2 linked regions of the Homo sapiens genome follow. The protein of the gene in region 2 purifies or fractionates together with the protein of the main gene of each other region. This does not show direct contact. Each region holds a gene or a part of one and is shown on either strand. Other genes may lie near its edges.

Evidence for each region.
Region 1: the proteins of DNAI2 (region 2) and DNAAF5 purify together in Homo sapiens (affinity purification with western blotting; 2 studies listed by BioGRID and IntAct, with this or other methods). This does not show direct contact.

What each region holds. Positions count from the first base shown.
Region 1 is NC_000007.14:718,680-734,994, forward strand, and holds the start of DNAAF5 (dynein axonemal assembly factor 5), read left to right. Parts: upstream 1-8,019; 5' UTR 8,020-8,041; coding exon 8,042-8,636; intron 8,637-8,910; exon of another isoform or gene 8,911-8,997; intron 8,998-9,190; exon of another isoform or gene 9,191-10,255; intron 10,256-10,983; coding exon 10,984-11,168; intron 11,169-16,315. UniProt on the Homo sapiens protein: Cytoplasmic protein involved in the delivery of the dynein machinery to the motile cilium.
Region 2 is NC_000017.11:74,296,382-74,312,233, reverse strand, and holds part of DNAI2 (dynein axonemal intermediate chain 2), read right to left. Parts: intron 12,517-15,852; coding exon 12,377-12,516; intron 11,189-12,376; coding exon 11,066-11,188; intron 7,016-11,065; coding exon 6,792-7,015; intron 2,982-6,791; coding exon 2,846-2,981; intron 2,218-2,845; coding exon 2,071-2,217; intron 1,978-2,070; exon of another isoform or gene 1,827-1,977; intron 537-1,826; exon of another isoform or gene 232-536; coding exon 4-231; intron 1-3. UniProt on the Homo sapiens protein: Part of the dynein complex of respiratory cilia.

The sequences.
Region 1 (16,315 bases), on a different chromosome or scaffold from region 2:
ATGTGCCTTCATTATCCCTTCAAATACCTCCTACTTCCCACTTTTCTTCTGCCTTCCTGGGACATCTATTCAACAGATATTAGCATTGTTGCTTCTGTTCTCCATATCCCTGACCTTTTCTCTTACATACTTCTTGTTCCTGTTTCATTTTGGTAACATACAGAACTTCATCTCTTTTATAGGCTTTTTTTTTTTTTTTTTTTTTTTGATGAGATAAGGTCTCGCTCTGTCATCCAGGCTGGAGTGCGGTGGCATGATCATAGCTCTTGGCAGCCTCAACCTTCCTGGCCCAAGTGATCCTCCCACCCCAGCCTCCTGAGTAGCTGGGATTACAGGTGCACCCCATCACACCCAGCTTATTATTTTTTCTTTTTCTTTTGAGAAGGAGTCTTGCTCTGTCACCAGGCTGGAGTGCAGTGGCCTGATCTCAGCTCCCTGCAACCTCCGCCTCCCAGGCTTAAGCAATTCTCCTGTCTCAGCCTCCCGAGTAGGTGGGATTACAGGTGCCTGCCACCACACCCGACTAATTTTTGTATTTTTAGTAGAGACGCGGTTTCACCCTCTTGGCCAGGCTGGTCTCAAACTCCTGAGCTCAAGTGATCCACCCGCCTTAGCCTCCCAAAGTGCTGGGATTACAGGCATGAGCCATTGTGCCCGGCCATAATTTTGTATTCTTTTTGTAGAGATGGGGGTCTCACTATGTTGCCCAGGCTGGTCTCAAGCTCTTGGGCTCAAGCAATCCTCCTGCCTCAGCCTCCCAAGTACCTGGGACTACAGGTGTGAGTCACTGCATCCAGCTAAGTTTTAATATTTCTTTGTAGCGACGAGGTGTCACTATTTGGCCCAGGTGGACGTGAATGCCTGGCCTCAAGTGATTCTCCCGTCTCAGCATCCCAAGGCCTGTTTCATTTGTTGTAACGTGTTGGCCCTCCTGTCCTACTGCCCTGCTTCTGTCATCCAGTTTATAGCTATTCCGTCTGGCAGTGTGTCTGGGGAAAGAAGAGAGGTCATGACCCCTCTGGGTATTCATGCAGTTGCCACCACAATCCAGGTACTATACTGTACCAGCTCCACAAGGCTCCCTCCTAGTGACCCTTAATAATCACGCCACCCCATCCCTAGCCCCAGGAGATCAGTCATCTGTTCCCCATCTCTGTTACTTTATGGATGTCATACAAACAAAACCACAAAATATCCCTTTGGGATTGGTTTTCATCTGCATAATCTTTTAGAGGTTCGTCCAAGTTGCGTGCAGCAATTCTTTCTGAGTAGAATAACTGTCTAATCTCCATGTGTGAAGATTTTCCTGCTATCTGCTGTTGATGGTAAGTGTGATTCCATTATTGTCAGAGAAGGCGTTCTGTGCAAGTCTTTTTTTTTTTTTTTTTTTTTTTGAGAGGGAGTTTCACTCTTGTTGCCCAGGCTGGAGTGCAGTGGCACAATCTTGGCTCACTTCAACCTCCGCCTCCTGGGTTCAAGTGATTCTCCTGCCTCAGCCTCCAGAGTAGCTGGGATTACAGGTGCGTGCCACCACACCCAGCTAATTTTTTGCATTTTTAGTAAAGACAGGATTTCTCCATGTTGGCCAGGCTGGTCTTGAACTCCTGACCTCAGGTGATCCGCCTGCCTCGGCCTCCCAAAGTGCTGGGATAACAGGTGTGAGCCACCGCGCCCAGCCCTCTGTGCAAGTCTTCTACATTTGCTAAGGTTTGCCTTATGGCCCAGGATATGGTATATCTTGGTCTCTGTTCTGAGGACACTAGAAAATAATGTGAATTCTGCGATTGTTGAGTGGTGTGTTCTGCAAACGTCAATTAGATCCTGTTGGTTGATGGTGTTGCTCTGCTATACCTTAATGACTATCTGCCTAGTTATTCTAGCAGCTGCTGAGTTGGGGGCTGAAGTCGTCAACTGCAACAGCAGGCTTGTCTCTTCCTCCTTTCAGCTCTATCAGTTTCTGCTTTATACATGTTGAAGGTCTGTTGTTTGCTGTACACACATTTGGGATTGCTGTTATCTTCCCAGTGGGTTCTTTTATCATTATGTAATGTCCCTCTTTTTCCCAAGGAATTTCAACAGCCACTCCCGCTTTTTAAAATTTATGTTTACATGATACTCTTTTGCCATCCTTTTACTTTCAATGTGCCTATGTTATTATGTTTGAAGTGAGCTTCAGCATATAGTAGACATCATACAGTTGGGTCATGTTTTGTATCCACGTGGCGAACCTCTGTCTTCTAATTGGTGTGTTTAGGCCATTTACATTTAAATTAGTGATATATTAGGGCTTACGCTTGCCATTTAATCATCTGTTCTCTCATGCTTTACTGTGGGATACCTGAATGTTTTTTAGAATTCCACGTTATGTTTTTGAGGATATCACCATATACATATGCAACCCATCGGTCTATCGGCATCTATGATTTTCCACCTTGAGTGAGTGGACAAACCTTCCTTCCACTTAAGTCCCTAACCCTTCTCACTGTTAAATACCTAGCTGTAGATATTTCCTCCACATACATCACACACCACATGAGTGTTGTAATTTTTGCTTCGATCATCAAATATGATTAAAGAAACTCATGAGGTGAAAGATGGTCAGTGACATTGACTTCTATTTTTATCCAGTCCATTGTCTCAACTTTCTGGAGGCCCCAGCCCTCTTCTGTTAAAATTATCTTTCTGGGCCGGGCACGGTGGCTCACGCCTGTAATCCCAGCACTTTGGGGGGCATTGAGGCAGGTGGATCACCTGAAGTCAGGAGTTCAAGACCAGCCTGACCAACACGGAGAAACTCTGTCTCTACTAAAAATAAAAAAATACTCGGGCATGGTGGCACATGCCTGTAATCCCAGTTACTCGAGAGGCTGAGGCAGGAGAATTGCTTGAACCTGGGAGGCAGAGGTTGCAGTGAGCTGAGATCATACCATTGCACTCCAGCCTGGGCAACAAGAGCGAAATTCCGTCTCAAAAAAAAAAAAAATTACCTTTCTGTTTACAGGGTATCCTTTATGCATTCCTTAAAGGTAGGTCTGCTAGCAATAAATTCTATTAGTTTGCCTGTCTGAGAACATCTTTACTCCTCTTCCATTCCTGAAGGATAGTTTTGCTGGGTAGAGGACTCACAGTCAACAGCTCTTTCCCCTTTACAGTTGAACAATGGCAGGTCACTTCTTTCTGGCCTTTTGTGGTTTTGGTTAAGAAATCTGCCTTCATTCAAACTGGTGTTCCTCTCTAGGCAAGGCATTATTTCTCTCTGTCAGTTAGTACTTTTCCTCCTTCTGTCTTTAGTTTCCAGGAGTTTAATTGTGATGTGTCTTAGTATGGGGTTTTTGGAGGGCTTGTCCTATGAAGCCTTGTTGAGCTTCTGGAATCTGTGGATTTATGTTTTTCATTGAATTGGGGGAGTTTTCAGCCTTTTTTTTTTTTTTTTTTTTTTGAGATGGAGTCTTGCTCTGTCACCCAGGCTGGAGTGCGGTGGCATGATATTGGCTCACTACAACCTCCACCTCCTGGGTTCAGGCAATTCTCGTGCCTCAGCCTCCCCGAGTAGCTGGGATTACAGGTACCCACCACCACACCCAGCTAATTTTTGTATTTTTAGTAGAGATGGGGTTTCACCATGTTGTCCAGGCTGGTTTCAAACTCCTGACCTCAGGTGATCTGCCCGCCTCGGCCTCACAAAGTGCTGGGATGACAGGCGTAAGCCACTGCACCTGGCTAATTTTTCTATTTTTAGTAGAGATGGGGTTTCACCATGTTATCCAGGCTGGTTTCAAACTCCTGACCACAGGTGATCTGCCTGCCTTGGCCTCACAAAGTGCTGGGATGACAGGCGTGAGCCACCGCGCCTGGCTAATTTTTGTATTTTTAGTAGAGATGGGGTTTCACCATGTTGTCCAGGCTGGTTTCAAACTCCTGACCTCAGGTGATCTGCCCGCCTTGGCCTCACAAAGTGCTGGGATGACAGGCGTGAGCCACCGCGCCCAGCTGGTTCTTATGACTCTGCTTTAAAATTCTTGGCAGATGATTCCAACATGTGACCTATCTTGGAATTTACATCCGTTACCTTACCATGTTCAGGTTGTGGCTTTCCTTGTTCTTGGTATGACAAGTGATCTCCAGATGTATCCTGGACATTTGGGTTACGATGTTTGCAGACTCCTTGTCCTACTCTATTCCACCAGGCAGTTGCTCTGTTCAGGTCCAGGGTGTAGATTGCAGCCTGTTTTTGTGGTCTGTCATTCCAACAGCAGTTTCGTCTTCAGAGCCCTGGCACTGCCCTCCTCGTCTGCTTTATTCTTCTGGCTCTCCTGGGACTGCTGCTCATTTCCCATGGGTGCTGCCTGCAGGGGTGAAAGGTACCTCCCTGGGCCGCCTGGTGTCACTGGGCTACCTTTTGCTGTGTCAGGACAGAACATGCTCGTTCTGGGTCTCTTTGTGCTAAGAGAGGAAGGGCAGATTTCAGGCTCCTCTGACACTACCTGTGCAGTGCAGACTGTCCACTCGAACCCCAGTTGCACAGCACAGGTTAATGCACCTGCAGCAGCTTTAAAATCGGCCCTGAAAGCAGACTGTGGGGTGAAGGTGGCAGCTACCCTCTAGGTCTCTGTTGGGCGTCCCCTTTCCCAGGGCTTTGGCCAGAGAGAGGAGGCTTTCCTTGGAGAATTTCTGTCTGTGCCTGTTGGCTGTTCTGGGCCACAGGCTTCCCTGGGGACTAGTGCAGGAACACATGAGAGAAAAAGAAAACCCAGGGGACCCACCACCTTGCTATTCCTCCAGTCCAGAGGTCTCCAGCCCGTCTGTCAACTCTCAAGCTCCTTTCCTCGTCGCCTGCTATGTGCAGGGTATTTTGTTGTATTTCAATGGGAGGAGCAAGGAAAAGTGAAGTCCCACCACCGTAATTCAAGCGCTTATTCTTTCTCGTCTTCAGCACTCACTGCCACAGCCTTCCCAGGGCTCCCGACCAATCCGTTCAACGGAAGCCAAAGGGGTCCTTGAAAAATGCAGACTCGATCTTGCCAATGCTCCCACCTTGAAATCCTCAGTCTGCCATGTTTTAGGACAGAGGCCCCCATGGCCTGGCCCCACCCATCTGCTCACTCCCTGCCTGCTCCCCTGTGACCAGGGTCAGCCTCCCTCCCTGTTTGCTACCTGAGGCTGCCGTAACAAAGCACACCAGGCTGGGCAGCTGAATGAAACAAATTTGATTTCTCAAGATCAGGGTACGGGCTGGCTCCTCTTGAGGTCTCTCTTCATGCTCATACTGCATTCTCCCTGTATGCACGTCTATCTCCAAAATTTCTCCTTTTATGAGGACAGCAGTCATATTGGATGAGTGCCCAACCTCATGACCTCATCTCACCTCAATCACGTCTGCAAAGACCTTGTCTCCAAACAGGATCACTTCCTGAACTATGGGGGTTAGGACTTCAGCATATGAATTTTGGGGAGACGCCATTCAGCCCGTAACACTCCCATGAGGCCTTTGCTCATGCTATTTCCTCTCTCTCCAACACTCCCCGTCTCCCACCTCCGCCCTTTCACCTGGCTATGTGACATGGTTTGGCTGTGTCCCCACCCAAATCTCATCTTGAATTGTAGCTCCCACAATTCCCACGTGTTGTGGGAAGGACCCAGTGGGAGGTAACTGAATAATGGGGGCAGGTCTTTCCTGTGCTGTTCCTATGATGGTGAATAAGTCTCACGAGATCTGACGGTTTTATAAGGGGGAGTTTCCCTGCACAGGCTCTCTCATTTTCTCTTTGCCTGCTGCCATCATGTAAGATGTGACTTGCTCCTTCCCGCCTTCGGCCATCATTGTGAGGCCTCCCCAGCCATGTGGAACTGTGAGTCCAGTAAACCTTTCCCTGTATAAGTTACCCAGTCTCGGCCATGTCTTTATTAGCAGCGTGAAAATGGACTAATACACTGTGTTTACTTATTCTTCATATTTCACCTCTGCTACCATTTGTTCAGGGAAGCCTTAAAAGTCTAGTTCAACATCCCTTGACACTCATTCTCTCAGGACCACCACGGTTAAACACATACTAATTTATCCTTCCATTAAGGGCTATCTCATCCTGCAAGACCCTAAGATCTGGGAGAGCAGGGACCATGGCCAGTTTCTACATCATTGTCATCCTGTCCCACATGTTGCAGACAGTGCCTGGTCAAACAAATGCCTGTTGGAGGAAACAATGAATGAAGGTTACTGAATATGCTACATAACAACTTTTCAGAAGTACTGATGGGCCGGGCGTGGTGGCTCACGCCTGTAATCCCAGCACTCTGGGAGGCTGAGGCGGGCGGATCACGAGGTCAGGACATCGAGACCATCCTGGCTAACACAGTGAAACCCCGTCTCTACTAAAAATACAAAAAATTAGCTGGGCGTGGTCGTGGGCACCTGCAGTCCCAGCTACTTGGGAGGCTGAGGCAGGAGAATGGCATGAACCTGGGAGGCAGAGTCTGCAGTGAGCGGAGATCGCGCCACTGCACTCCAGGCTGGGCGACAGAGCAAGATTCCATCTCAAAAAAAAAAAAAAAAGACGTACCGACAAACACCACCATTTTGCAACACGAAGATCAACAACAAAAAAGAAGGTCAAACTTGAAGTTCTGTCCTAAAATTACACACATTCTGCCTTTAGAAAACTCAGTGCATGGTCACAGATGAGAAGTGCCTGGCTAACCAGACTTGGGGACTCCTGGTTTGCAGTGAGTGCTGTCAAACTCGCGTTCTAGGCTGGGCTCACAGCAACTCCGACTCCAAGCTGTTTAGGCGCCTCTGTCTCCACTCAAGTCCACAGTCAAGGTCACTACTGTGAAACACTGTCTTGCTTTTAATTTCCAAGCTGCCTTGTTATTTCTTGGGAGTAGGCCAAGCTAACTTTAGGAGGAACTTAGTTTATAGTTTAACTTTGAAACAAAGATGATAACAGCCCTTTCCTGAAGCCAACCTCCTTCTTGCCTGGGGACCAGAATGCTTTTGTAAGACTAACACATGAGCCACAAGATTAGAAATTGTGGTTTGAGTCATGCAGCTAGAGGCCACAAGATTCCAAACCTCCCCAGTTGCTCCTTAGGATAACACCACTATCATCAACTCTAAGATTGGTGCTCAAGATATTTTTCAGGCTCTGCATTCTGATGCACCAGGTGCCACCACCCACACCACTAATCTGGCTCAACCAGTTCTGTGATCCCACCCAGGAACAGAAGACAGCAAGAGAATCAACTTTGACTCTCCATGGTTTCATCTCCAACCCGACCAATAAGCACTGCCCTCTCCCTGGCCCCCTACCTGCCTAATTATCCTTAGATGACCCATCTCAGGATTTTCAGAACCTGGTTTGAGCAATAAAGCTCCAGTGTCCTTTAGCCAGTTTCTGCATGCAGCCAGTTTCTGCATGCAGCCAGTTTCTGCATGCATTAAACTCTCTATTGCAATTCCCCTGTCTTGATAAATTGGCTCTACCTGGGCAGCGAGTAAGGCGAACCTATTGGGCGGCTACGCCTGAGATCTAATGACAGGCTGCACGTGAAGCCCAGACCAGGCACCTGTCTTACACCACAGGGGGATCCAGTCCACAGAACCAGCGTCCTTCCCTCCTGGAACGGACCTTCCCAAAGCCAGAGGGGCTCTAGGCGGCTCAAACAGGGGCTTCCCGGCTACCCTGGTCCCAGGCGGGACCACTCAGGTTCCTTCTCCAAGCCCCCTAGGCTGCAGGGCAGGCTTCCCTAGGGGCAGGCCCAGGCCTATAGCCCGGGACCCGCATCCCGGGCGAGCTGCACCCTCCCGAGACCTTCCCCATCTGTACAATGGGGACAGGACAAGGCCCAGCAGGCAGGCTGGCGGGGGTTCCGGCGACAGAGGGGGACAGCGGGCGAGCACGACAAGAGCACAGGCCCACGTGCGCACCGGCGGGGAGGAAGTAGCCCGGCGCCCCGCCCGCAGCGCGGACCGGAAGTGCTGCCGTAATCTGCGCTGAGAGTCGCGAAAGCGCTGTTCCCCTTAGTGACCGGCGACGCGGGCAAGATGGCGGCGCTGGGGGTGGCGGAGGCCGTGGCGGCCCCACACCCGGCTGAGGGGGCCGAGACGGCTGAGGCGGTGGAGCTGAGCCGCGCCCTGAGCCGCCTGCTGCCGGGGCTGGAGGCCGACAGCAAGCCGGGCCGGCGGCGCGCCTTGGAGGCCCTGCGGCGCGCGCTGGAGGAGCCAGGCCCTGCCGCCGACCCCACCGCTTTCCAGGGCCCCTGGGCGCGCCTACTGCTGCCGCGCTTGCTGCGCTGCCTGAGCGACCCCGCCGAGGGCTGCCGCGCGCTGGCAGTGCACCTGCTGGATCTGGGCCTGCGCCGCGCCGCGCGGCCCCGCGATGCCCTGCCGCGCCTGCTGCCCGCGCTCGCCGCGCGCTTGGCCGGCCCCGTGCCCGCGCGCCGCCCGCCCGAGGCCTGTGAGGAGCTGCGCCTGGCGCTTGTGCAGCTGCTGGGCCTGGCCGTGGACCTGTGCGGCGCCGCGCTCGCGCCCCACCTGGACGACGCTCTGCGCGCGCTGCGCTGCTCCCTGCTCGACCCCTTCGCCGCCGTGCGCCGCGAGAGCTGCAGCTGCGCCGCCGCCCTGGCGCAGGCCACGCCCGGTGAGCACCCCGGGCCCCGCTCCCACACGCCACCCCACACTCTCACCCCCACCTCCACCTCCGCGGCCCCTCTCACAACCCCCGCGGCTCGGCCCCGCCCCCCTCCACGCCCGCACCCCCCAACATCCCGGACCCCCCATGCGCCGCTTCCCCCACCCGCCTGCCCCAAAGCACCCCGCCCGGCCCCCTCCTCCCACCACCACTGCTTCCCCTGCCTCACGTCCCGCCACCAACGCGCCCTTCAGCTGCTCCCTTGTCCTCTACCCCCATGTACCTGTTTCCTGCGCTGCCACGTGCTCCTTGCCCCGTGACCCCTGTTCCTGCTTGGCCCTCACTCACCTCACTCCCCTGTCCCCTTGCTCCCCGCCTCCACCCTCCACGCCCCAAGCCCCGCCCCCCACCTGCCTGCTCCCTGTGCCCCCTCCACCTGCCTATCCTGTGCCATCCTCCTCCTTGCACGCCGCCCTCCCGCGACCCTCACCTCCCACCCTCCTCCCTGCCTGAGCCCCCTCCACCCCACCCGGGCCCACGAGCCAGCGCTTCTGTCCAGATACCTGGAAACCACCGCAGAAATTCCTGTTAGGCGGTTTGGGGTGGGGTGTGCCCTGATAGCTGCCCCCTTTCCTTCCCTCGGGGGCTTGCAGGACTTGCACCTGGTTGAGGGCACGCGCTTTGAGACTCTGCTCTGGTCATTTCACTTTCTGTCCCATTCATCCTACTCCCCTGCCTTTCCGCTCTGGCTTGGACCACTGTCCTAAGTGGAAGGAGGCCGCTTCTCCCCTCCACTTTATAACGTTCCCCATCTTTTTTAGAGCTCTGATCTGATCCGGTCGTTCCCTTTCCTTAGCTGGCCATTCCTGCAGGGTCTTGCCCTTTCCCTCCCCTGGCTGGGATGTGGAATGATAGCAGGCGCCTGCTTCCTGCTGGCGGGAAGGCTTTCCGAAGGAGGGAACACTGATGCTATAAATCCGTGGGCGGTAGGGAGCAGGAAAGCAGTGAGGGATCTGGCCAGCTCAGGCCGTCCCAGTGATGTCCCAGTGATGGTCTGAATGTAGTGGGAAGTGCAGGGGGTGTCAATAGAAGTGATAGACCCGAGTTCAGGTTGTTAAAAGATCACTGCAGCTGCGTGGAGAATAGATTCCAGAAGTAGAGGAAGAGCTGGACTTGGGGAAATGCCGAGATTTCCACGTTGGTTAACTTTGGATTTCACATGGTCCAGAACTCCTGTGGAGCTTGGGGAAGAACCTTGGGCTGGATGGACATGGCCATTGAGAATTCCTGGCATTTAATGTATTTCTTCTTCATCCTCAACCACTTCCCTACCCAGTCTGTACATCAGCCCCACGAGCTCCCTCCCTGGACCGTAGGTTCCACAGGACAGCACTGTGCCCATCTGTGCCCCAGCCCCAAGCGCAGCCTGCTGGGGTATGTGCTCACTGGTTGCTGTGGGGTGAGGGACTGTGCCTCTGCCTGGAGCATCCCCTCATCTCCAGCACCTCTGGCCTTCCTCTCCCCTGGGTGGGGGGCCTCACCTCTGGTCTCGGTCACACTGGGCAACGGCAGAGAGGTTGAGGCGCTCACCCAAAGTCTCACTGGAATAGCCGTTTCCCAGACGGGCCCCAAGTAGTGCAGAGCTGAGGCAAGAGGCGGCCTGGATGCCAGAGACCCTTTGGTTCTGACTTTTTTTTTTTTTTTTTTTGAGACAGGGTTTCACTCTGTCTCCCAGGCTGGAGTGCAGTGGGGCGATCTCAGCTCACTGCAACCTCCGCCTCCTGAGTTCAAGCGATTCTCCTGCCTCAGCCTCCCAAGTAGCTGGGATTACAGGCGCCTGCCACCTCTTGTTCTGACTTTCTGCGGGGACTTTACAAATAGGAAGTGCAGTGGCTTTGCCTGGAGTGGTGCTGGCCCAGCTTCCTGGAGGAGCCTGGGGTCTCGTCTCAGGTGGGGCTGGGAGTGTGGCCTCGCCTCTGTCTTCTGGGCTCGGCTTCTTTCCTCTGGCCAGTGTCCCCGTCAGGCCTCCACCTTGGCTTCAGCAGGTCCAGGCTCTCTGGTCTTCAGCCACAATGGGTTTGCACCCCCAGCCTTTCCCCGCTGGTCCTCCTAAGCCTCTGGGTTGCACAGGTGTCATCAGGGTGGGACGCTTGTCCCTGAGCCTCTTCCTGTGCCGGGCGGTACAGAGCTCTCCTTGGCAGCCTGGATTGTGTACTGTTCATGCAGCAAGGACCTGGCGTAGGAGAGGAAGGGAGGTGAGGAACTCATAGGCAGGCAGCCGTCCTCTGGAAGCCCACAGAGCTGGGCGAGGCGTGTGGGAGCAGCTCTGGTAACTGGGGGCCTCCCTGTCCCTCAGACCACTTCCACATGCAGTCGGAGTCTCTGATCGGGCCCCTGATGCAGACCATCTCCCACCAGCACTGGAAGGTCCGTGTGGCCGCCATTGAAGCCACAGGCGCAGTGATCCATTTTGGCAACGGGAAGTCCGTGGACGACGTGCTTTCCCATTTTGCTCAGCGACTGTTTGATGACGTCCCGCAGGTAACTGGTGTTTCTCCTGGACAGTCTGTTCCTCTCTCCAACACAGGCGGGCTGACGTGCTGTTTTTAACTAACTCACTTGTTCTTTTTTCAGAGTGCTGTATGCACCAAATGTCCTTTCATTATTCCTAGTCACAGGACGTTCCTGTTCACATCTTGGAAAAACTAGAAGAGAGCTGAACTGTTTTAATGTTTGATGTTATGAATTCCAAGGATGTTAGAAAGGATGACTTGTGTAGTTATTGTCTCTTAGGCACAGTGTGCACTTCAGCAGTTGCAGAAGGTTCCTTAGTGCTCCCATCCATCAAGACGCACTTTCCCGAAAAGCCACCATGGTTGGTGGACCTGGACTGGGAGAAGAGTGGAGTCGGGGTTGGTTTGTTGGGGATAATTATGTCGTTGGGCTTTGGAACCCACCAAGAGACGGGCAGGCAGGCAGGCAGGAGTCCTACAGATGGGGCTGAGTGTTGGCTTTACTGCTGGCAGAATCTGGCCTGGAGGGCATGTCTTGGATCTGAGGCCCCAGTGACTTGCTAAAATGCTACACACTGTGGCCACCGGGGAAGCTGAGTGACCTCTGATCTTTCTGTCTCTGAGTTACCTGTCATCGTAGTCAGACATGTGATCTTTTGTGTCTGGCCTCTTCACTGTGCATGGTTCCAGGTTTCAGCCTTGAAGAGGTAGGTTTCCTGATGAGAAATGGCTTGAAGGTGGTGAGTTGAAGAGTCACTCGGGGTATTCTGGGGCCAGGATGGAAGCCCTGACTCGCTCCCTCGTCTGTGCTGCTGGGGTCCACCCGTAGGGCCGGCTCCAGGTGTGACATAGCACCTGCTCAGGACACCCCTGCTTTGCCTCCATGGCCAGGCTTCATTCTCCGGCTCTCTCCCTCCAGCAGCAGAGTGGCTGCCTAGGGGCTGTGCGCAGAGACACAGGGGGACCCTTTCCCACCAGGAGCCTTTGTTCACCCCCCTTGGTCTCATCAGGCCAGCGGAAGTTGAGTCACCATGTACGCTGGCCGGCCCCTCCTGGAGCTGGCGTGGGTTCGGCACCAGGCAGCACAGAGGGCCCCTGAGGACATCAGGCTCTGCCCAGTGGGGAGAAAGTGGGCAGAGTGCGGGGTCAGTGTCCATGCTGCCCGGCACTTGCAGCAGGCACTTCTGGCACTGGCTAAATATTTGGGCTGCGGAGGGCAGTTCAAGGGGCCAGGGCAAGAACAGAGCCCAGCAAGAAGTGCAGGCGGCCGGCTGGTTTTTCTCTCCCACCTTCCTTAAGCCTGAGGCAGAGCATGGCCCACAAGGAAAGTGGAGTCTGTGTCATGGGCCAAGTCTTACTCCTCAAAACAGTGTGATGACTCTGTATGGAGAGCTCTGTGTGAATACTGAAGCTCCATAGCTGATAGCTGTCGGTGTAAGCCTACTGTCACTGTCTAAAAATAACCATCACTGTCTAAAAATACCGTCACTGTCTAAAAATACCATCACTGTATCGATAGCTGTCTGTAAATACTGGAACTCTGTGGAGCACGCTCTGTAAATACTGGAACTCTATTGCTAGCTGTAAACGGTGTAACTCAGTATAACTATACCGTAACTCTAAAAATACCATAACTATGTGTCGACAGCTGCCTATAAATGCTATAACTGTATTGGTAGCTATGTATAAGCAGCCTACTCTGTATCAATAGCTGTCTGTTAGAAAGCTGACATCACATTGTTGATCTAAAGCAAGCTTGTCCAACCTGCGGCCCGTGGGCCACATGCAGCCCGGGACGGCTTTGAATGCTGCCCAACACCAATTCATAAACTTTCTTAAAATGTTACGAGATTGTTTTTGTGATTTTTTTTTTTCTTTTAGCTCGTCAGCTATCATTAGTGTTAGTGTTATTTTATGTGTGGCCCAAGACAATTCTTCCAGCATGGCCCGTTTCTTCCCAATGGGGTTTGCGTCCTATTAGAGACCCTGCACGGCCCTTCACGTGAGTTTCGTGTGGAGTCACGGTGCTGCCCCTTTTACTCTGATCAGCCCTGCGACCCCGTCCTGGAGCTCCATGTGGGCTCCTTGCAGACACCTCCACCCCCTCAACAACCCAGGGACTGGTGCCCTGGGACCCCATCCTCTCTGCACAGAAGGTCCTGACTGCCTTCTGACTCGTAGGAAACCTTCCAGCAGCCTGCTAGACTCGGCTTAAATCACTGAACTTCACTGGAAGGGCCTGGAAATAACTTCATCTCCTCCTTACAAGGCTCAGAGGCCTCAGAGCTCACTCAGGTAGCACAGCCAGGTGAGCCTCAGAGCAAGGTCAGGACACAGGCGGTCTAGCCGCCCTGGAGCCTTAGGCCCCGGGATGGTGTCTGAAGTTGTGGAAAGGGGGTGTCCCAGTGCGGCAGGGGCTAATGCATCTCCCCACGCTCACATGACTGCAGCTCCGAGCCCAGGACACTGACCACACCCAGAACCCCGGCGAGGCAGGCAGGACGGACGTATGGCCGTGCAGTTGTGAAGCAGGCCTTGAACAAACTGCCCTGTGCCGCCCTCAGGTGGGTGACTCATGGACTTCGCCCTGCAGGGGTGCCCTGGTTGTCGCCAGGCCTGCAGTCGGCAGCTGCTCAGCTTTGCTGCAGTTTTCCTGCTCGATGTGTGCTGCTGGTGAGGCCACCAGGCCTGTTCTTGTCAAGAGAGACCTTCCGGGAGCAACAGATGTTACAGGAGAGACTGGGGATGCATGGACAGCTTTTCAGAGATGAGTGTTTGTCACGTTCCTGCCAAGTACCTGTTTGCCATTTGTATGCCTTCTTTTGAGAAATGTCTATTCAGATCTGTCCATTTTTAAATCGCGTTATTAGATTTTTTTCTATTGAGTTTGAGCTCCTTATGGATTCTGGTTGTCAGTCCCTTGTCAGATGGGTATTTGTGCAGCTGTTTGCTCCCATCCTGTGGGTTGTCTCCTCACTATTGATTGTTTTATTTGCTGTGCAGAAGCTTTTTAACTTGATGTGATCCCATTTGCCCAGGCCATGTCCCAGAGAGTTTCCCCAATGTTTTCTTTTAGTGGTTTCATAGTTTGAGGTCTTAGATTGAGGTCTTTAATCTATTTTGATTTGATTTTTGTACATGGTGAGAGATAGGGGTCCAGTTTCATTTTTCTGCATATGGAGTTCCAGTTTTCCCAGCACCATTTATTGAAGAAACTGTCCTCTCCCCAAGATATGTCCTTGGCACCTTTGTCAAAATAAGTTCACTGTAAATGTATGGATTTAATTTCTGGCTTCTCTATTCTGTTCCATTGGTCTGTGTGTCTGTTTTTATGCCAGTGCCAAGCTGTTCTGGTCGCTGTAGCTCTGTAGTATAAATTGAAGTCAGGTAATGTGATCCCTCCAGTTTTTTGTTTGTTTTTGTCTTGTTTTGTTTTTTGCTCAGGATGGCTTTGGCTATTCAACGTCTTTCGAGGTTCCATATAAATTTAGGATTATTTTTTCTATTTCTGTGAAGAATGTCATTGGTATTTTGATAGGGATTGCGTTGAGTCTGTAAATTGCTTTGGGTAGTATGGACATTTTGGGTAGTATGGACAATATTGATTCTTCCAGTCCATGGAGTATGTTACCATTTTTTGTGTGTGTCCTCTTCAGTTTTCTCATGTCAGTGGTTTATAGTTTTCTTTCTTTTTTTTGAGACAGTCTCGCTCTGTCATCCAGGGTGGAGTGCAGTGGTGCGATCTCTGCTTACTGCAAGCTCCGCCTCCCAGGTTCACGCCATTCTCCTTCCTCAGCCTCCCGAGTAGCTGGGACTACAGGTGCCTGCCACCGCACCTGGCTAATTTTTTGTGTTTTTAGTAGAGACAGTTTCACCATGTTAGCCAGGATGGTCTCAATCTCCTGACTTCGTGATCCGACTGCCTCAGCCTCCCAAAGTGCTGGGATTACAGGTGTGAGCCACTGCGCCTGGCCTTATAGTTTTCATTGTAGAGATCTTTCACTTCTTTGGTTAAGTTAATTCCTAGGTATCTTATTTTGTTTGTAGCTATTGTAAATGGAATTACTTTCTTGATTTCTTTTTCAGATTTGTTAACTGTTGGCATGTAGAAATGCTACTGGGGCTTTTTTGGTGATTTTGTATCCTGCAACTTTACTGAATTTGTTTATCTGTTCTAATAGGTTTTTTGTGGAATCTTTAGGTTTTTCCAAATGTAAGATTATATCATCTGCAAACAAGAATAATTATCTTCCTTTTCAATTTGGATTCCCTTTATTTTTCTTGTCTAATTGTTCTAGCTAGAGCTTCCAGTACTGTGTTAACTAACAGTGGTGAAAGCGAGCATCCTTGTCTTGCTCCAGATTTAGAAGAAAGGCTTTCAATTTTTCCCCATTCAGTGTGGTACTAGCTGTGAGTCTTGTATATGGCTTTTATTGTACTGAGGTGTGTTCCTTCTATACCCAGTTTTTTGAAGATTTTTATCATGTAGGGATGTTGAATTTTATCAATACTTTTCAGCATCACTTGAAATAATCACGTAGTTCTTGTCCTTCATTCTGCCGATATGATGTGTCACATTGATGGATTTGTGTATGTTGAGCCATCCTTGCATTCCTGGAATAAATCTCACTTGGTCATGACAAATGATCTTTCTCATGTGCTGTTGAAACAGTGGAAACTTTGCGTCAGTGTTCATCAGGGATATTGTCCTGTAGTTTTCCTTTTCGATTGCATCTGGCTGGTTCTGGTATCAGGGTAGTACTGGCCTCATAAATTAAGTTTGGAGGTATTCCTTCCTCTTCTAGTTCTTGGAATAGTTTGAGTAGGAGTGACATTAGTTCTTTAAACGTTTGATAACATTTGGCAGTGAAATATTGCGACCCGGGCTTTTCTTTGCTCAGTGGCTTTTCATTGCGGCTTCAATATCATTACTTGTTACTGGTCTGTTCAAGGTTTGGATTTATGATTTAATCTGTGTAGGTCATATGTGTCTAGGAATTTATCCATTTCTTCTAGGTTTTCCAATTTATTGGCATATAGTTGCTCACAGTATAGTTGCTCACAGTGTAGCTGCTCACGGTGTTGCTCACAGTGTCGTTGCTCATATTGTAGTTGCTCATATTGTTGCTCATAGTGTTGTTCTTCATGGTATAGCTGCTCACAGTGTCGCTGCTC
Region 2 (15,852 bases):
TACAGGCACTGGCGTCAGCTTTATGGCGTCTGCCTCCTTCTTCTTCAGCTCTGCGAAGATGATGTCGAAGAACTCCTCCTCGGCCTTGCTGACCAGCGCCTCCAGGTCTACGGCCAGCTCCTCATCGGTCTGCTCCTCATCCCTGCCCTCCGCCTTACCCTTCTCCTTCAGCCGCATCTCCCGGTGCCTGGCCTCCAGGATCTTCTCTCGCCGGGTCTCACGCTCAAACATCTGGGCACCCAGGGACAGAGAGAGCCCGGTGGGGAGAGGGCAGGATGGCAAGCGACTCCAGTGCTGGGGCCAGGTGGGGCTTCTGCTGAGCTCTCCTTGCTCTCCATACAGTCCCTGTACTGTAGAGGTCTGTACCCAGGGCTGGTGTCAAGGAAGGAGGGCTGAATATTGGGGTTGGAAGGCTGCAGCAGGGACACTGAGTTACTCAATGCCAAGGAGCATGGAGTTCCAGAACCACAGGCAGAAGAGCGCCCTTTGGAGCTATGAAATATGGCGGCTTTGGCCCAACAAGGACCAGCTCAATGGTGAGATCCCAGTCTCAGGCAGAGCCAGGAGGCTCTCCAGGCCTCAGCACTAGGGGTTTTCCTTTTTTGTTTTGTTTTGTTTTTGAGACAGAGTTTCACTCTTGTTGCCCAGGCTGGAATGCAATGGCACGATCTCGGCTCACCACAACCTCTGCTTCCCACGTTCAAGCAATTCTCCTGCCTCAGCCTCTCAAGGAGCTGGGATTACAGGCATGTGACGCCATGCCTGGCTAATTTTCTATTTTTAGTAGAGACGAGGTTTCTTCATGTTGGTCAGGCTGGTCTCGAACTCCCGACCTCAGGTGATCTGCCCGCCTCGGCCTCCCAAAGTGCTGGGATTACAGGCGTGAGCCACCACACCCGGCCCTAGCACTAGGGGTTTTCAGTTCCACAGTGTTCCCCATGGTTCTGGGGGGTTGCCTGCAGGGCTGTCCACTGGGGAAAGGATGTAGGAATGGATCTCAGTCCCCCTCTTCAAGTCCCCTTCTATCTGGCTTCCCTATTAGCATTCTACTAAGTCTTCAGGCTGGGCGTGGTGGCTCATGCCTATAATCCCAGCAGTTTGGGAGGCTGAGGTGGAAGGATTGCTTGAGCCCTGGAGTTTCAGACCAGCCTGGGCAACATAAGGAGACCCTGTCTCTACAAAAATTAAAAAATGAGCCAGGCATGGTGGTGCATGCCTGTGGTCCCAGCAACTCAGGAGGCTGAGGTGGGAGGACCGATTCAGCCTGGGAGGTAGAGGCTGCAGTGGGCCATGATTGTGCCACTGCACTCCAGCCTGGGCAACAAAGCAAGACCCTGTCTCAAAATGAAGTAAAATAAAATAAACTGATAAAATAAAAATAAATAAAATAATTAGGCTGGGCACGGTGGCTCACGCCTATAATCCCAGCACTTTCGGAGGCCAGGGTGGGCAGATCATCTTAAGGTCAAGAGTTCAAGACCAGCCTGGCCAGTATGGTGAGATCCTGTCTCTATTAAAAATACAAAAATTAGCTGGGCGTGGTGGTATGCACTTGTAATCCCAGGTACTCAGGAGGCTGAGGCAGGAGAATCACTTGAACCTGGGAAGCAGAGATTGCAGTGAGCCTAGATCTCACCATTGCACTCCAGCCTGGGCAACAGAGCGTGACTTTGTCTCAAAAATAAATAAATAAATAAAAATAATTAAATTAAAATACAATATAATATAATACAATACTAAGCCTTCATTGGAAAGTTTCCACAAAAAAAAAAAAGTGTTATTTGAAACTAGACAAACTGACCAAGTCGAACCTCTTTGATTTACAGGTAAAAAACTGAATCCTGGAGAGTGACGTGACTTACTGAAGGCCACTTAGCTACCCAGCAGTTGAGCAAAGGCAAATGGACACACCAACACCTATTTATGGAGCCCACACTGCTTCCCCCAAAATGTGCACCTATGTTCTGGGGGTGGGAGGGCGGGGCCATCTATTTGTCTGACTAGCCTGCTCTGCTGTGGGGCCAGGTCGGGACGTGCTGGAGGGATTTTCCCCAGGCACCCGGTGCTTACGGAAGAGGCTACGTTCTTCTCATTCCTCTGGAGGGTAGAGAGCCCAGGCGAGACCTCCAGCAGGGTGGTTGTCCCCAGCTGGGAGCCGCAGGCGATGAGACACCCATTGTCCTGCACCCGGAGGCAGAAGAGGGCCTCGTCACACACCTATTGAAGGGGCCGGGCAGACCCAGGTAGAGGAGAGAGGAGCAAAGTTATGTGTGTCTGATTAACTGGCCCCTGGGGAGGCTCAGCCACTTGGCCCTATTCAAACATCCTCAGGACGCCTCTGCCCACAGGATGAAGTTCAAACTCGGAGACTGGTTGTCAAGGCTCCTGGCTTCCCTGCCTCATCTCCCGCCCCACCCCTTCAGTTCCGCCTCACAGTCACCCTGTGGTTCCCCAATGCCCCCACCCTTCCGTGGCCCCAGCCAGTGGGGCTCAGCTCTGGCCACCCTGACATGAAGGGGAAGGTCCAGCAGCCAAACCCCAGGGGCTCTGAAGGAATCGGCCTGTGGGTAGGAGATGCCGGGTACCTGCTTTTGTTTCTTTTTAAATTTCCCCCAGGTGGTTCTGTTGTGCTACCAGGATGCCAAATCCCCCAGGCCCCTTAACCTTTGTAGGAGCACACGCTCAAAAGCAATCGCTGCAGTCAGCCTGCACACGGCTCCCCCACAGAGGCCCAAACACACCTGGCCACACACTGCACACGTGCTCACAGCACCCCACACTCACACCCACGCCGGGACCTGGCTCCCTGAGGACCTGGATGCACAAGGAGGGACATGCGCGTGACCTTCAAGCTGAGGGTGGGATCGCACTGCTCGAACATGAAGTCCCAGATATCCAGGGTTCCGTCCATCCTGGTGGTAAAGAAAACGGTCGGCCTCACGGGGCTCCAGGCAGCATCAGTGAGGTAAGCCATGTGGTACCTGTGGGAGGTAGACCACATCATGGTTGGAGGGACAGAGGCTTCTGAGCCACAGCTTGGCTCACTTGGTCCCTTCTGGGCTCCAGGATCTCAGAGTCTTGCTAGGTAGGAAGTTCTTCCTTGTGTCTGACTTCTAGCTGTGCTGACCTCACTCATCCACAGCTCACAGGTTGCTTTTTTTTTTTTTTTTTTTGAGACACTCTTGCTCTGTTGCCCAGGCTGGAGTGCAGTGGTACGATGTCGGCTCACTGCAATCTCTGCCTCCTGGGTTCAAGCAATTCTCCTGTCTCAGCCTCCCGAGTAACTGGGATTACTGGCGCCCGTCACCACACCCAGCTAATATTTTATTTTTGCTAGAGATGGGGTTTCACCATGTTGGCCAGGCTGCTCTCAAACTCTTGACCTCAGGTGTCTGACAGGCTGTTCTTTAAAGGGCTCTGGGCTGGTCATGTGCCTGTAATCCCAGCACTTTGGGAGGCCAAGGCAGGAAGATCGCTTGAAGCCAGGATTTTGAGACCAGCCTGGACAACATGGAAAGACCCTGTTTCTACAAAAAATAAAAAAATTAGCCGGGTGTGGTGGTGAGCACCTGTGGTCCCAGCTCCTCGGGAGGCTGAGATGGGAGGATCGCTTGAGCCCAGGAGGTCGAGGCTGCAGTGAGCCATGTTTGTGCCACTGTACTCCAGCCTGGGCAACGTAGTGAGACCCTGTCTCAAATAAAATAAAGAAAGGGCTCTGGGCACAGTCCTTCCCGTGGGCTGGCCACTGGCATTTCTCTGCTGCTAACTCCAGGCAGCAGGCACGTGTTGCTGGACCTGGTCCCAGCCCTGGGACTCACGGATGGGAGTCAGAGGAAGGACATGCCCAGAAAAGCTGCTACCGCTGAGATAAGGAGAGTGTCACTTCCTACTTGGTTTCATCTGGGTTTTCAAGAGTTTCTTCAGTGAAGACGGAACATTTTTTTAAAAGGGACACACACACAGTGCAGCCTTCAGATTTTCACCCAGACCTCCTCTCCCTTCCTCCATTGCAATATAGTTGTAGCTGGGCCCCTGGTGAGCAAGGCAGACTACACTTCCCAGTCACCTTTGCAAACCTAGTGTGTTGACAGCCAGACCACAGTGGGAGAAATGATCAAGACTAAAGAAAGGATCTGGGCCGGGCGCGGTGGCTCATGCCTGTCATCCCAGGACTTTGGGAGGCCGAGAATGGTGGATCACCTGAGGTCAGGAGTTTGAGATCAGCCTGGCCAACATGGCAGAACCCTGCCTCTACTAAAAATAAAAAAATTATCCAGGGGTGTTGGTGGGCGCCTGTAATCCCAGCTACTCAGGAGGCTGAGGCAGAAGAATTGCTTGAACCCAGGAGGTGAAGGTTGTAGTGAGCCAAGATCGTGCCACTGCACTCCAGCCTGGGCAACAAAGAGACTTCATCCCCCCAAAAAAAGAAACATCTGGAGATTTTTGGACAATGAATAATTTTTAGTATAAGTATATACCAAATATTGCATGGGACATACTTATACTAAAAAAAAAATAGTTTTTTTTTTTAAAATTCAGATTTAACTAAGTGCCAAATATTATTTTTTTTTGAGACGGAGTCTCACTCTGTCGCCCAGGCTGGAGTGCAGTGGCGCAATCTCGGCTGGTCTTGAACTCCTGATCTCAGGTGATCCACCCGCCTCGGCCTCCCAAAGTGCTGGGATTACAGGCGTTAGCCACCAAGCCCAGCTGATTTTTTGTATTTTTATTAGAGATGGGGATTCACCATATTGGCCAGGCTCGTCTTGAACTCCTGACCTCAAGTGATCCTCCCGCCTCAGCCTCCCAAAGTGCTGGGATTACAGGCATTAGCCCACTGCACCTGGCCCAGGGTCAAATATTCTTATTTGCTAAATTTGTTTAACCTTATGCAGGAGGAGGACAAGGGAGACCCAGGTTCTACGACACAGGTCCACCAAGTCCCTCTAGGAACCAGCCCTGCGAAAGGCCTATGGGTGCTGTGCTCGACACCCTGCTCCTTTCACACAGCCCTGGCAGCCTGCAGGACCTGAAGACATTGGGAAGGCTCCTAAAGCCTGTAAAGGGCTTCACATCTACTGGGAACCCCCTACTTGCTATGAGGCCTGGAACAATGCACTGCCCTTGTCAGCCAGCGTTCCCACCCCTGTAGAATGAGGACATCGAACCAGGTTTCTGCTCCCAAAGCAAGGACTGGCTGAGTCACAAGCCTGGGGTTGCTCCTTAGCAAACCCATTCCTGGGCTAAGCCCAAGATTCTATGTTAGTACCCCCAGGGTTGGGGCTGAGAATCTGGATTTTAAAAAAATCACTCCTCCACCAGGCACGGTGGCTCATGCCTGTAATCCCAGCCCTTCGGGAGGCTGAGGCAGGCGAATCACCTGAGGTCAGGAGTTTGAGACCAGCCTGGCCAACATGGGGAAACTCTGTCTATACTAAAAATACAAAAATTAGCTGGGTGTGCTGGCGTGCGCCTGTAATCCCAGCTACTCAGGAGGATAAGGCAGGAGAATCGCATGAACTCGGGAGGTGGAGGTTGCAGTGAGCCGAGATCTCGCCATTGCACTTCAGCCTGGGTGACAGAGTAAGACTCCATCTCAAAAGCATTTTAACAAACAAACAAAAACTCCTCCCAAGATATTCTGATGCAACCAGATTTGGGAAGCACTGGAACCAAAGATGCTCATTAGGGTTGCTGGTGGCTTTGACGTTGCAGGAGTCTGTGGTTCTGTGGGCAGGAAAGGAACCCCAGGATGTTTTTTTTAGCAAGAGAAAAAAGTAATTATTTATACATGCAATGCACAATACACATGGCAGTGCTCGGTGGTGAATGACTCAAGGGGGTGGTTAGAATTCGGGCTTATTACCTAATTTAGGAGATGAAGGGGAGGAGGAGAAAGGGCACTTTTAGACAAGGTAAATGGGCCCTAAGAAGAATGGAGGGGGATGTGATAGTCTAAGCTTCTCTGGTCTAACCATTGTGCTCATAGCTCTGTCTCAAGCTCCCTGTCTGTTGCTCTCCTCAGAGGAGTGGCACTGAGCAAGACAGGCTATGCCTCACTGCTGAATTGTGCCAAGGCACCCGCATTTCCCAGCCAAGCTTCCTTGGTTCACACCCAATCTCGGCTCCTCACTAGCTGGGAGAGCAGGAGCAAGTGGCTTGGCCTTTCTGTAGCCCAGTTCCCTAACATGAAAAATGAGATGAAGAGAAGAGCAATGCTGCCTCCTCCTGGGGATAGTTTGAGGATTATGAAAATTAAGCCAGCCAGACGCGGTGGCTCACACCTGTAATCCCAACGCTTTGGGAGGCCGAGGTGGGCAGATCACCTGAGGTCAGGAGTTCAAGACCAGCCTGGCCAACGTGGCAAAATCCCATCTCTACTAAAAATACAAAAATTAGTTGGGCATGGTGGCAGGTGCTTGTAGTCCCAGCTACTCAGGAGGCTGAGGCAGGAGAGTCTCTTGAACCTGGGAGGTGGAGGCTGCAGTGAGCCGAGATCACGCCACTGCACTCAGTCTGGGGAACTAAGCGAGACTGTCTCAAAAAAAAAAAAAAAAAAAAAAGGAAATAAAATTAAGCCATGGCCATTATTTTTAGTAACTGAGTGTTTGAAGCTTATCACTTTGTGGAGTGGCTGGAGCAAGTCACTTGCTAACACGAGCTCGGGTGTTTGTGGAAAGGTTTTTCTCCATTTTACATATGGAGGCTCGGGACTCTCCGGGGCCCAGCTGGGCTCCCTCCATCCCCTCCTGTCTCCTGCATCCCCTCCTGTCCCCAGCATCGCCTCTTACTTGGTCCACATGATGGACGATTCCCGGCTGTCTTCAGACCAAATGCGGGCTGTCCAGTCGCCAACCGTCAGGAAGTTCTTCGGGTAGAAGGGGTTTCTCTGGAGGGCGTAGATGGGGCCATGATGGCCCGGGAAGGTGCACACAATCTTTTCAGCTGACGTCTTGGCCTTGCGGTTGCAGGAGATGACGATGCCCTGCTCGGTCCCCACCATGAACTTGGTGGGCTGTGGAAGGAGTGACACAGGAGGGGAAGACTCCACGAACCATCAATTCTGGGATTAGCGGGCATGGACAGGAGCTTGCTTGGGGGGTCTGCAGGCGCTAGAAAGGCCCTCAGATCAAGCCTTGGCAAGGGCTGTGGCCCCTCCTGGAGAGCAGTCCCCACTCTTCCCGGGCTCCTCAGACCCCATCTTTTTGGAAGCTGCTCAAGGAGCCTGTGCTGAATGAAGCCCTCCCTGGCTCCTCCAGTCCTGGAGGGTTGTCAGGTCACTAGCCCCCTCTGCAGAGCACCACTGTGTCCTCGATGCATTTGGCCATAAAGATCCTGAATGTTTGTTTACAGAGAGAGTAAAGAAGACCCAGGGAGGGGATGCAGGGTGGCCCACCCAGATCACTCATGGGATGGGCAGAGCCTTCCCTGGCAAGACAGTGACATTTGTCATAGCATTGTCCAGGCTGGTGTCCCTGAGAACTCAGAGCAGGTGACCAACCAGCACTCAGGAAGTTACCTGGCAGTCGGTGATGTAACTCGTCCCCCTACCACTGGTGGGTGAGCTCTTTGAGGGGCACGAGCTTGTCTGACATGGGTCCATCGCCCACGAACTGAGCTTTAGTAGTTATTCACTTCACTGCGGACTGAATGCACAAAGGCTGGTCTCCTGACTCCTGGTCCAGTGCTCCCCTCGCGTCTCTGAGCATGACCCCCTCCATCACGCAATGCCCTTCCTTGTTTACTGTTCTGTCTTAACTTCTGGGCTAGACTGAACAACCTCCACCAGCAGGGCCTGAGCCTACAATGGTGCTGTGTCCTCAGCATTCCAAATGGAAAGAACAGCTGAGTGAGGTAGGGGAGGGGCACACTGAGGGGAGGGCCTTTGTCAACGGGCTCAGATGTCCTCTGCAGCTGGTGAACCTGCCCCTATAGAACTCCCAGGTTTTAGGCAGAGGTTGCAGTGAGCCGAGATCATGCCACTGCACTCCAGCCTGGCCTACAGAGCAAGGCCCTACCTCAAAAAAAAAAAAAAAAAAAAAAAAAAGAAAAAAGAAAAAGAAAAAAGAAAAGAAAAGAAAAAAGAACTCCTAGTTTATTTATTTATTTCTCGAGACAGGTTCTGGCTCCATTGCCCAGGCTGGAGTGCAGCAGTGCGATCTCAGCTCACTGCATCCTTGACCTTCTGGGCTCAAGCAGTACTCCCACCTCAGCCTCCCACGTAGGGACCACAAGCACACACCACCAGGGTCAGCTAATTTTTGTATTTTTGTAGAGATGGAGTCTCCCTATGTTGTCCAGACTGGTCTCAAACTCCTAAGCTCAAGTGATCTGCACACATCGGCTTCCCAAAGTGCTGGGATTACAGACCTGAGCCACTGCACCTGGCCCCCCAGCTTTTTTATTTTTATTTTTTTAAAAAACATATTGTTTTATTATGCAGTTTTCTTCTACCAGAAAATTACTAAAATGATAAATATAAAATCTCTAGAAAATACCCAGAACATGGCCAGGTGTGGTGGTTGAGGCACGAGAATCACTTGAACCTGGGAGGCAGAGGTTGCAGCGAGCCAAGATCATGTCACTGCACTCCAGCCTGGGCAAGAGTGAGACTCTGTCTCAAAAAAAAAAAAAAAATCAGCCTGGCTTGGTGGCATGTGCCTGTGGTCCCAGCTGCTCAAGAGGCTGAGGCTTGAGCCCAGGAGGTGGATGTTGCAGTAAGCTGAGATTACACAACTGCACTCCAGCATGGGCAACAGAGCAAAACGATGTCTCAACAAAACAAAACAAAAACCTGGGCTTCAAGTTGGGCGTCAAGGGCAAGTGGAAAGACCAAGCTTGAGAGGTCCAGAGAAGAAAGTATTCAAGCCGACTGCACGCCGCCCGTCAGTGAGCCAGAGAGAAAGGCCACCCAGATCTGAGTGGCCCATCGTGCCTCTAGCCTCAGACTTCATGGTGGGCTGCAGGTGGACACTCTGGGCCTCAGAGTTGGAGCCCTGGGTTTGAGTCCCAGCTTTACCAGGTACTAGGACTCACAACCTAATCTCATGAAGACTCATCGTGTGTGTCTGGCAAGTACGGATAATAACATTACCCCACGAGATGGTTGTAGGCGACTGCACAAGCTTATTAAATCAGGCAGCCACAAGTGTCCAACACACAGTGTGCACCCTGCAAGGGCCAGGCATGGAGGAGATGGCCCTAGTAGTGATGTGGCTGCATGTCTAGCACTTGGCCTAGAAAGCCTTGCCTCTGGGACAGAATGTTTTCCTGAGCCCTCGCCACCCCAACCTCCCTGCCCAGTGCCTTGTCCTCTGGGGAGGGGGTCAGTGGAATTGTCTCCTCCTTCCATCAACATTCATCTCTCAGCCTTGAGCTAGGGTTGCCCAGGTATGTTCGAGGCCAGGGCCTCCCAAAGCCCTAGGAATGATGGCCCATGACCCCGAAGCAAACAAGTGACACCCCCAAGGGGGAACCAGGCCTGGGCTGCACTAAGACGTAAACCAAGACTCAGCCCAAACCAAAAGCCAACAACAAGGGAAAGTTGTCTTCTTACTCTAGCGAGGAAGTCTTCCTTTACTGCTTCTAGGAAGCTTCCCTCCTCTAACACATTTGCACTATGCTCAAACTGATATTTCCTGTTTTTCTTTTCTTTGTTTTTTTTTTGAGATGGAGTTTCGCTCTTGTCGTCCAGGCTGGAGTGCAATGATGCGATCTTGGCTCACCGCAACCCCCGCCTCCCAGGTTCAAGCAATTCTCCTGCCTCAGCCTCCCGAGTAGCTGGGATTACAGGCGTGCGCCTCCACGCCCAGCTAATTTTGTATTTTTAGTAGAGATGGGGTTTCTCCATATTGGTCAGGCTGGCCTCGAACTCCCAACCTCAGGTGATCCGCCCGCCTTGGCCTCCCAAAGTGCTGGGATTACAGGTGTGAGCCACCGTGCCTGGCCCTTTTTTTCTTTTCTTATGTAGGGACAGTGTCTTGCTATGTTGTCCAGGCTGGTCTTGAACTGCTGGGCTCAAGTGATCCTGCCACCTCAGCCTCCCAAAGTGCTGGGATTACAGGTGTGAGCCACGGCGCCTTGCCTCACATTGATATTTTTCTTCTTTTTCTTTCCTTCCTTCCTTCCTTCCTTCCTTCCTTCCTTCCTTCCTTCCTTCCTTCTTTCCTTCCTTCCTTCCTTCCTTCCTTCCTTCCTTCCTTCCTTCTTTCCTTCCTTCTTTCCTTCCTTCCTTCCTTCCTTCCTTCCTTCCTTCCTTCCTTCCTTCTTTCCTTCCTTCCTTCCTTCCTTCCTTCCTTCCTTCCTTCCTTCCTTCCTTCCTTCTTTCCTTCCTTCCTTCCTTCCTTCCTTCCTTCCTTCCTTCCTTCCTTCTTTCCTTCCTTCTTTCCTTTTCTTTCCCTCTCTCTCCCTCTCTTTCTTTCTTTCTTTCTTGGTAAAGACTGGGCGGGCGGTGGGGGGGGTCTCATTATGTACCCAGGCTGGTCTTAAATTCTTGGCCTCCCAAAGTGCTGGGATTACAGGCGTGAGCCACCCTGCCCGACCTGAACTTTGATATTTCTTTGTCATTCTCAGTGACTGAACACCGAGACCATGCTTGTGCTCTGGTTTTCCAAGGAGCCTGCTTTGACCTCATTTTCCTCTCCAGTACCTCTTCCTTCCCCAGAGGAAGGCAGGTGACCAGCCTAGGGACCCCGTGCCAGGCAGGGCCAGGACCTGGGTTGGAGTCCAGGCCTCCCGATGTTGGTCCTGGGCGTGACCTTCCCCACAAAACAGGGCTTTTCTGGAATTGTTCTGTCAAAAGATTGCCCTCTGTGTTCAGCTGGGCCACTGGCCAAAAGATGACTTGGTGCCATGATGACTATGGTGTCCTTCTTCGAGAAGCTCTGCTGCCCCCTGCTGGAAAGTTGTTGTAAAGGCCACACACGTCTAGGATGGCTGCAGTGAGGGTGGCCTCCCTGGGCTGGTGCTGGGTTCCACGAGCACCTGATATCCTAGCAATGGCCTGTCTTTAGCCCTGGCTGCCCTGTCAATGCAAGTCGGGGAAGGGACAGCAAGGGACACTCACCAAAGTAGATTCGAACTCCAGGGAGATGGCCCCCAAGGCATTTTCCAACTGTTCCTTCTTGGTGATGTCCAAGATCACAACTTCAGTGGGCTCGCTCATCTTTCGGATGTCCCACCACATGACCTGGTGGGAGGAGGGGCGACAGTGAGACTTCGAGGCCCTGTATTTCCCCTGGCTTTTGCCTTCTCCGCCCTCACCCCACCGTCCTGGGGTCAGCCACTGGGCCACAAAGGATGGAGCTCCCGGCAATTCGTGGGAGCAAATACACTTTGAGGATTGCTGTTCTGTCCACAGTTCCCACACCTGGCTGATCATCAGAGTCGCCGGCAAGCTTCATACAACCCAGATGCTGAGGCCTCGCCCTCGACCTACTGAATCAAAACCTCCAGGTGCAAGGCCAAGAATCGGTATATGCCAAGACTCCCCACAATAAGGCAATATCCGGCAATGTTAAAAATGCATGTGTGCTCCGACCTAGAAGTCCCACTGCCAGCAATGTCTGCTGTAGATATATCCCCGCATGTGTGCAACAATCTGTGTATAAAGATGCTCTTTGCTGTATTTTTTGGGGGGTAGCAACAAAATATTAGAATCCATATATAAATTATGGTACACCCACATGATGCAGTTATTAATAGGCATGGGGCAGCGGTGTATGAAATATGAAACTATCTCCAAGGTACACACAATGGAAAACATCGAGTACAGAATAGTGTGTGAAGTGTGCAAAAAGAAAGAGTAAAGAAGAGAGAGGTGTGTTTCCTTGCATACGCAGAGACTAGCTCTGAAGGCAGACATAAGAGAGGGAGGGAGGGGAGGAGGTGCAGGCAGAGGTGAGAGGAAGGCATTTTCTTTTTTGCACCCTTTAGATTCTGTTCCGTGGGCATGTATTATCACTACTCAACTTAAAAATAAAGTGTTAGGCTGGGCGCAGTGGCTCATGCCTGTAATCCCACCACTTTGGGAGGCCAAGGCGGGTGGATCACCTGAGGTCAGAGTTCGAGACCAGCCTGGCCAACATAGTGAAGCACCATCTCTACTAAAAATAAAAAATTAACCAGGCATAGTGGCAGGCGCCTGTAATCCCAGCTACTTGGGAGGCTGAGGCAGGAGAATTGCTTGAACCCGGGAGGCAGAGGTTGCAGTGAACCAAGATCGTGCCATTGCACTCCAGCCTGGGCAACAAGAGTGAAACTCCATCTCAAAATAAAATGTGTTAAAGGAAATGTCCCCAGGGGTTCTGATGGGGAACCAGGGAACAGTTACTGCCCCTCCCTTCCCTCCTCTCTCCAGTGTCTGGCTGGTGGGTACCTGCCCATCCGTGGAAGCTGAGAAGCACTCGGTGCCCGTCTTCGACTGCAGCCAGATGGTGCCATACACAGGGTCTCGGTGGCTGGACTCAATGGTGGATAGCTCCGCCACCAGGCTGCCCTTTCGGGTGTCCCAGCAGGCTGGTGAGGAAGGAGATGAAGAAGGAGTGGAAGGGGGCACAGGCTTCCTTCCTTAGGGCAGGGAGCAGGGGAGAGAGGGGGCTGCTGCTTCTGGTTTGGCAGGTATGTGGTTTTCTAGAATCAGGGCTTGGTTCAAATCAGCCTGAGTTTCCTACCAGCCTCTACAGACTCTCTGGAGAGACTCCCAGAGTGCAAGCTTCATTCAGTTCCTTGAGCCCCTCCCAGGCATTGACTCCCTACCCAACACTTGGCCCTGGGCAAGCCTCTGGGGATAGGACAGGCATAGTGGCAGGGGAACACATGAGGGTGGTCAGGGAAGGCCTCCTGGAGGAAGTGACAGGTAGCTGAGATGGAAGATGAGCCTCAGGATGGAGGGAGCCAGGCGAGAGGAGAGCCGAGTCCCTAACGTAGGGAAAAGCACGTGGAAAGACTCCATTTAGGTGAATCTCTCTGCTACATTAGCCCATTTCCTCTTATCCTTTGTACCTCTGCTGCCTCTGTTGGAAAGAAACTCACAGAGGAGCTTTAGCCTTTACTGTGATCTGTTATTAGTGCTTTGCCAAGAAAGATGGAAAGGTTATCTGTCCTTTGTCCTGTTAGATTTCGTTTCCATTTTCCCATGAATGCACAATGAGGGCTCACCCTGTCACTCAGAGCTGTTTCTAGGAAAGGCCGTTTTGTAAAATAACAAAAGTACTTAGCTCGTAAGCTTTGACTTAGTATTTCTCCAAGTTCAAGGCATTTTCCCTGAACTCAGCTGGCCCAGAAATATGTTTTCTTAGATACGCCTGCTCAGCCAAGCACAGTGGCTCATGCTTGTAATCCTAGCGCATTAGGAGGCCGAGGCAAAAGGATTGCTTGAGCCCAGGAATCCAAGAGCAGCTTGGGCAACATAGTGAGACCCCGTCTCTACAAAAAATTTAAAACCTAGCTGGGCATGGTGGCACATGCTACTCGGGAGGCTGTTACTCGGGAGGCTGCCTGCTACTCGGGAGGCTGAGGTGGGAGAATTGCTTGAGCCTGGGAGGTTGAGGCTGCAGTGAGCCATGATCGTGCCACTACACCCCAGCCTGGGTGACAGAGCAAGACCCTGTCTCAAAAAATAAAAATAGGCCAGGCCTGGTGGCTCACACCTGTAATCCCAGCACTTTGGGAGGCTGAGGCAGGTGGATCACTTGTGGTCAGGAGTTCAAGACCAGCCTGGCCAACATGATGAAACCCCATCTTTACTAAAAACACAAAAAAATTAGCTGGGCGTGGTGGCAGGCACCTGTAATCCCAGCTTCTCAGGAGGCTGAGGCATGAGAATCACTCGCACCTGGGAGGCAGATGTTGCAGTGAGCTGAGATCATGCCATTGCACTCCAGCCTGGGCAACAAAGCAAGGCTGTCTCAAAAACAAAACAAAAAATAAAAATAAATAAAAATAAAAGATAAGCCTGTTCTACTTTGGCAAAGCAGTGCTCAAGAGTAGGTCCCACTGGGTCCCACATGGCCCTAGAGGGGCCCTTCTTGGAGCAGCGGAGCACCAGAGTCTGGGCTGGTATGAGCTGGCATGAAAAACCACTGAAAGAGGTTATGAATAATGACTGAGTCAAGGCTCTTGAATTAATCATGGCAAAGTGGCTCTGCCTCAGTCTTTTAGAGCTCTGGCACCCAGATAGTTTGGCAGGGACGTTTATGGGAGCCCGGGTCTATTCCATAATCTGAAAGCTCCCCTGGGCAGGAGGCAGCAGGTCTGAGAGGGAGATCGGGGCCTTAGGAAGCAGCTGACTACAGACAGCTTCAGAGGAGGAGTTTCTCAGCCATCCTGGCTCCCACTCCCGAAGAAGCAGCAAAAGTATAAGAACATACAGAGCAGAGAGGAGTGGGGAATGCTTTTTACGCCCAGGGTCAAGACTGGCCTGGGTGTAGTCATGGGTTGGGTGTCTGGCGACTCCAGGTTCAGGGGAACAGAGCAGGTAGGGACATTCAGAGCCAACCCAGGCAGGTGACTTCTGATCTCACTGGAGATTAAAAAAAAAAAAAAGCAGTTTGGGCTGGGCTTGGTGGCTCACGCCTGTAATCCCAGCACTTTGGGAGGTCAAGGTGGGTGGATCACTTGAGGCCAGGAGTTTGAGAACAGCCTGGCCAACATGACAAAACTCTGTTTCTATTAAAAATACAAAAATTAGCCAGGCGTGGTGGCATGCACCAGCCTCTGGGGAGGCTGAGGCAGGAGGATCGCTTGAACCCAGGAGGCGGAGGTGGCAGTGAGCTGAGATCACACCACTGTACTCCAGCCTGGGTGACAGAGCAAGACCCTGTCTCAAAAAAAAAAAAAAAAAGTCTGGGCACGGTGGCTCATGCCTGTAATCCCAGCACTTTGGGAGGCCGAGGCAGGCAGATCACGAGGTCAAGAGATCAAGACCATCCTGGCTAACACAGTGAAACCCCGTCTCTACTAAAAAAAAAAAATACAAAACATTAGCTGGGCGTGGTGGCGGGCACCTGTAGTCCCAGCTACTCGGGAGGCTGAGGCAGGAGAATGGCATGAACCTGGGAGGCGGAGCTTGCAGTGAGCCAAGATCGTGACATTGCACTCCAGCCTAGGTGACACAGCGAGACTCTGTCTCAAAGAAACAAACAAACAAAAATCAGTTTTCCAGGTGTGCCATCAGCAAAATCCGTGAAGTAAGGACCTCCAAAAATTCTCTCCTCCATAATAGCAGTGAGAAAACTGGCAAAAATGGTCAGAATCAACTTTTTCAGAACTCTGGAAATTAGCCAGAGGCTTAGGGCAGTCGGGAGAATGTTTATTCAAGAAAAACAGCAGAATCTTGGTAAGAACAGTGGCATTTTCACTTGCCCTAGTTAAGATCGCACACTCTGCAGTTCCGTGGTGGCCTTGAAAATTCACATTCTGCACTCCTGATGAAAAACAGCAGCCTGGCGCCACAAGAGGGAGCAGAATGAGGCTGGAGCTCCTTTCAAGTCTCATGCCCAAAGAACTGTCATTATCTGACCGGTCTGGTGGTTCCCTGATAAGGCTCCTCTTGCAAGGTTGGCTGTAATTGACTTGGTTCAGCCTTTGCCTGGTGTGAAAAGTCTTTTCATCAGGGTGTAATTGCAGGCAACTGACTAACTTTGCAGCTTCCTGAGGCAGTGGATAACAGGTGGGGAAAGGAATAGACCTACCGAAAAGCTTAAAAGGAAAAGCTGGGCCGAGTACAGTGGCTCACGCCTGTACTTTGGGAGGCTGAGGCAGGACTGCTTGAGGCCAGGAGTTCACAACCAACCTGGTCAACATAGCAAGACCCTGTCCCTATTTTCTTTCTTTCTCTCTCTCTCTCTCTCT